Regions from separate parts of the Homo sapiens genome. Here region 2 is linked to region 1. The links come from fine-mapping of genetic effects on gene expression. A gene starts in region 1. The other region holds a variant in brackets. All regions are shown on one strand. Distances are from middle to middle. Region 1 holds the start of MRPL14 (mitochondrial ribosomal protein L14). Region 2 has its middle 16 kb from the start of SCIRT.

The links. PIP is the estimated chance that this variant, and not a neighbour inherited with it, causes the effect.
Region 2: its variant is fine-mapped to the expression of MRPL14 in aorta (GTEx, PIP above 0.99).

What each region holds. Positions count from the first base shown.
Region 1 is chr6:44,126,132-44,129,033 of GRCh38, forward strand. MRPL14 (mitochondrial ribosomal protein L14) reads right to left here and starts at 1,321. Exons shown (of 3, transcript NM_032111.4): 1 at 1,213-1,321. It overlaps TMEM63B (transmembrane protein 63B), which reads left to right and starts at 1,423. Exons shown (of 24, transcript NM_018426.3): 1 at 1,423-1,547. RefSeq lists silencers at 1,054-1,113, 1,144-1,193, 1,214-1,613, 1,654-1,763, 1,944-2,103.
Region 2 is chr6:44,089,345-44,092,246 of GRCh38, forward strand. It overlaps the pseudogene RPL29P16. Among named protein-coding and RNA genes, the nearest start is that of SCIRT, 16 kb to the left of the region's middle. The variant G/T (reference allele first, on the strand shown) is at 1,498.

The sequences.
Region 1 (2,902 bases):
AAAGGCAAGAGGGCAAATAGAAGGGCACAGGAGACAACGCTTTTCAAATTTTTCTCACTGCGACCTACAGAAACACACTGTAGAACACCTCCTAGTACACTCACACGTGTGTGTACACCTGAAGTGTCAAGAAACAATACCCTAAGTGCAACACCCTCTGATATTTTCTATTTCAAGTGGCCGTGATCTACTAAACTGATTTCCAACTCACCAATAGGATTCAGTTTGAAAAACACTGCAATAAATCAAACCTTACAGTTGCATTCCACAAGCTACTAATGAACTCTTGAAAATCCAGCATACAGCAGAGACGCTGACCAACTACAAGATCCAAACCCCCCAGGTGGGCAGTGTCCTTCTGTTCAGCAGTGGCAGTTCCCCACCACCACCAGCCCTGAGAGTTAATTATCTCCCAAACTCCCAGAGTTTCCCAAGTAGCCTGAGGTGTCTGTCATATGCCCTTTTAACCTCTTTATAAATTCAGTCCCGTCCGTCTCTTACGGTGGCAAAGTTCATTTATCGTCGGCTGTGGAAAGCAATACTTCCTTTTTGTCCCCTCCAGGAACCAGAAATTAAATGACCAGGTTGGTGCCCGTTGTGCCTTTATGATCTATTTGTGTGGGTGATATATAGAAAGAGTCTCAGTCTCTCCCTTCATCTTTCCAGTCTTAATCACTGGTAGATGCAGTCTCTGGTGAAATAAGAAACCAGGGAACCCCCTGGCCTGGGGGAGGGCGCACTCATCAGCGTTGACAGAGTGAAAGCAAAAACTCAATCCTCACACCACAGAGGCGTCTGGCTAACTCATCTCCAGACCTAAGTTGGGAAAGGGGAGGGGAGCGCGGAAAGCGGAGAAGCCGGAGGAGACGCTCCGGAGTGACCAGCGACGGCTGAACGCAGCCCGCCCTCCCCAAGTCGACGCCGCAACCCGGGGAAAGCAGGTGAGCGCCGGCCACGGACTTGGGGGTCGCAGAAGCAGCCCACGGAGAGCGGAAGGGAGGAGGATCCGGGTAAGGGGCCTCCCCTCCCCGTCGGGACCCCCCTCCCCGTCGGGACCCCCCCCTCCCCGTCGGGACCCCTCCCACTGACGCTCTGCCTCCCACTCTGGCCTCTCCTCACTCACCCCGGGGAGTGGGCCTCCCCTACTGCAGAGAAAGGAAGAGGAGAAGGAGGGAATGAGGACTTAACGCCCACCCCTGCCCCCCACCATACCGCTCTCGCCGCCCGGGAAAATCCCGCCGCGGGCCCCACCAGCCAAGCGCCGCCTTCGCCCCACGCGGCCTCTTCCTAGCGCCTGCGCGCCAGGCCCAGCCCGGCGGACGCGATCTGAGAGTGCGCGCGCACCTTGCGTGCGCCGGCGTGCGGGGCGGGACCTGCGGGGCTCCGCCCCCTCCCCCTCCCTCCCCCCGCTCCCCCTCCCCCATACACTGCCGCGGCCGCCGCAGGAGCCCGGAGCTCGAGCCGCCCAGCGACTCCCCCTCCCCCTCCCCCAGCCCCGCCCCGCCCCAACCCGGGGCTCCGAGCCGGAGCCGAGTCTGCGCCTGGGGGTGAGTACGCGACCCCTACCCAGCCCTCGCTCTTTTCTTCGAAGATCCCACCACCACCCAAAGAAAAAACCTGGACTCAGCTGCGCGTCCCCTCCCTTCAACCTCCTGCGGGACCCAGAGGTGCCCGGGCCCGCGGGACCCAGGGGTGGCGCGCGCTGCCCCCAACCCCGCACCATCCCGAGCCAAATGTGAGTCCTCCAACCCCTGCCGGAGGTCCAGATACGCGCCGCCGGCTCTCCCCAGCCCCGGGGAGATCCCAAAGGGTGGGACCCCCGCCCCCGGCCCCCGAGTGCCACTCTTCTCCCACCTGCCCGGTGCAGGTGCGCGTCCCCTGCGCGACCCTCGGGGGTGCCAGCTGCGCCCCGCCTGTCCGCCGCCGTTTGGGGAACTAGCCGCCCCCGCCCCCGAGTTTTGGACCCCGGGGTCGCCAAGTCCGATGCCTTCTGTGCCTTTTATTTTTTCTGCTGCTCCCGGGGGCGAGTACACCCGAAGCCGGTCCGGGGTAAGGGCTCGGGCTCGGGCAAGGGCAGGGTTCGCAGGTGCTGGCACGAGGCCGGCCGCTGCCCCCGGCTCTGGGGACTGACTGGTCGGCGGGCTGGAGAGGCGGCCGGCCCCGGGAGCGTGTCCTCTCCTTGCGCCCCACACAGTGCAGTTCATTCATGAGCCGCCCGGGCCTGCGTTGGAGGGTGCGGTGGGGAAAAGATTCAGACGCGAAACCGAGAGTGGGGCAAAGGCCCTGTTGTGGGGAGGGGGCGCCGCTTTGTCCCTCCTGGCTGTCTTGACCGCCTAAGGCGGACAGTCCCAAAGCTTGGCACCTTGTTCCCCAGAAAAGGAAAGGACGCTTGGGAAGTGGGGAGGAGAGGTCAGAGGGGCTGGCTGCCCTTGGGGCGCTGTGCTGCCCCCTGCCTGGGTCCCCTGGGCAGAGGTCTGGCCGCTCGGGGCAAGCCTGAGCACTCCACCGCCCTGGGGGGCTGGGGCTTGCCTACCCATTACCAGTCTGCAGCAGCCGGGGAGCAATGAGGCTGTGCCCAACACCTGCTGAAGAGGGGCCCATCCTGCCTCCCAGGCCAGGGTGAGGTGGGGAGTGGGAGTGTCAGCCAGGCTTCAAGTGGGGGTGTGCTGGCAGCGTGATTGTCCTCCAGGGCACCAGAGGGTCCAGGCCTTGGCATGCCCCAGGTGGCACATGCTGGGGCCTGCTGTTGGCTCACTCAGTGCAGTCTTGGCCTGTGGGTGGATGGGGACATGGCAAGGCAGAAGGCAGGCAGTGGGTAACTAAGAACCCCCTTGGACATCATTCAAGTTCTCTCCAAGTATAGCAGAGTCTTAGAGACCTGCGTTCAAATTCTAGCTCTACT
Region 2 (2,902 bases), 37 kb before region 1:
TTTGGCCGGCACAGCCTGAGCCCCTTGGCAATGCAGGCACGAGCACGCTTCCCAAGCTTGGGGTGGGCAATGTAGGCAAGTCAATCGAGCTTGCGGCTGACACCCTTTGGGATCTTGGGCTTAACCTCCTTGGGCTTTCGAGGACCTTGATAGCCTCAGCACGTGCCCTCATGGCCTCGGCATTGTTGGCCTGCATCTTTTTTAGGCCCTTCTTGTTGTGCTTCTTGGCAAGGTGCATGCTCCTTAGGAACTTGAGGTCCACCCCATTAAGACATTTGTATCTTTGTGATCGGGGTTTCCTGATGCCATTTCTGTGCCATTTTGGGGACTGGTTGTGTGTGTTGTGGTTCTTGACGTTGCCATGTCTGCACCTTAAGCCGCAGCTGCTAAAGCACCTAGAACCGGAAAAAGCTAGAAAGTTTAAATGAACTAATGTATGTAAAGCATTCAGCCTAGGGCCTGGCACATAGAAGGTGCACAACATGGGCTATTAGCATTACTACTGTGATCAGGACCACCCCAACCAAGTCATGCGCTCTTTTGGGGGAAGGAACTGCATCTTATTTATCTTTGTCTATTTGAGCATTTGCCATGGGCTTGGCACACAGTAGGTGCTCCATGTCTTAGATCAGGTTCCCCAGAAGCAGATCCTGAGATGAGGATTCATAGCTAAATGATTTGGGAGTGCTCCCAGGGAAACTGGAGAGGGACTCGGGGAGCAAGACAAGAAAGTAAGAGGCCAAGAAGGGTGCAGATTCAGGCAAAATTCTGCAGAGGGTGACTTCTGCCTGATCTCGCAGGGGAACTTGGGAGTGTAAATTACACCTCAGGGTTGTCCTCGCCCCAGGCAAGGGAGCTGGGACCTCACTCTCCTGCACCTCAGTCATTGGCTAAGGGCCACCATGGAGGGGATAGATTTCCAGGCACTTCCCATCATGCTCCAGTAGCAGAGGGCAGTGCTGAGAGACCACCTAGAAGGGAAGGCACCCAGGGGCCAGGAGGGTCCATGAAAATGGAAAAGGGCTGGAGGGGACCTGCCACCTTCCATAAATGTCATCCCAGCCTCTGAAAGATCACAGTTCCCCAGGAAGTCCAGGACAGTGGAGGCAGAGTGGGCAGAGGGGACTGCCAGGCCGTGGGAGCAGCTCTAACTTACGCGTTGGTCAGAGCCGGGAGGTCCTTTGAGTGGCCAGCCTCCCTACCAGCTGACAGGGGCAGGCCTGGGACTGCCTGAGTTGGTCTTAAGAGCCCCTACTATGTGCCTGGCGTAGATGCTGAGTTCTTCACATGATTTTCTCATTTAACCCTCACACCACCCCTAGACAGATGACTCTGAGGCATGGAGGCATAGCATAGAGAGGCCTTCCTGTGACCCCCCAAAGAGTGAAGGGCAAAGATGATTGATGTCATTAAGAAATGCAAATAAAAACCACAATGAGCTATCATTTCACACCCACTAGGGTGGTTATAATAAAAAATCTTTAATGAAATATAAGT[G/T]TTGGTGAAGATGTGGAGAAATGAGATCCCTCACACATTGCTAGTGGGAATGTAAAAGGGTACAGCTGCCGTGGAAGTTTGGCAGTTCCACCTTAAGCTAAACACAGAAGCACGACAGGACCCTGAAATTCCACTCTTAGTATAGACTAAAACAAATTAAATACACTTGTTCAGACAAAAGCTTGCACAAGAATGTTCACAGCAGCACTATTCACAACCCCAACAGTGGAAACAACCCCTATGTCCACCACTGATGAATGGATAAACAAAATGTGGGTATATCCATACAATGGAATATTATTCAGTCTCATAAAAAGAAACAAAATACCGACACATGCTACAACATGGATGAACCTTGAAAACATTATGCTGAGTAGAAGAAGCCAGACACAAAAGGCCATATAGTGTACAATCCCATTTATAGGAAATGTTCAGAATGGGGAGATTTTTAGAGACAGAATGCAGATTGCTGGCTGCCAGGGGCTGGGAGTCAGGGACTGAGGAGCGGTGTGGAACTGGGGGGTGGTGACAGTCAAGAAGCATTTTCTTTTTTTTTCTTTTCTTTTCTTTTTTTTTTTGAGATAGGGTCTCACTCTGTCACCCAGGTTGGAGTACAGTGGCATGATCTCCGCTCACCACAGCCTCAACCTCCTGAGCTCAAGCAGTCCTCCCACCTCAGCCTCCCAAGTAGCTAACTACATGGGCACACCATCACAAGAACTCATTTTTGTATTTTTTTTTTGTAGATACAGGGTCTCCCCATGTTGCCCAGGCTGGTTTTGAACTCCTGGGCTCAAGCAATCCACCCGCCTCAGCCTCCCAAAGTGTTGGGATTACAGGCATGAGCCACCGTGCCCAGCCTGCACAGCATTTTCAATGTACTAAATGCTGCTAAATTATACACTTTTTAAGGCCAGGTGCAGGGCTCACGCCTGTAATCCCAGAACTTTGGGAGGCCAAGGTGGGCGGATTGCCTGAGCTCAGGAGTTTGTGACCAGCCTGGGCAACATGGTGAGACCCCATCTCTACTAAAAACACAAAAAATTAGGCAGGCGTGTTGGCACACACCTGTAATCCCAGCTACTTGCGAGGCTGAGACAGGAGAATCACTTGAACACAGGAGGCAGAGGTTGCAGTGAGCCGAGATTGCACCACTACACTGCAGCCTGGGTGACAGAGTGAGACTGTCTCCTAAATAAATAAAACATTTTAAAATGGTTAAAATGGCAACTTTTATGTGTACTCTGCCAGAATTCTCTTAAGTTAAAAAAAAATGTGAGTTTTGAACCTCCCCTCCAAGGGCCTGGGAGCTGCCAACACAGAGTCAGCCACAGTGTTTCCAGATGGACAGAACGAATCAAAAAGATGTCTGCCAGACACTATGCCAACAGGAAGATGGGACTCA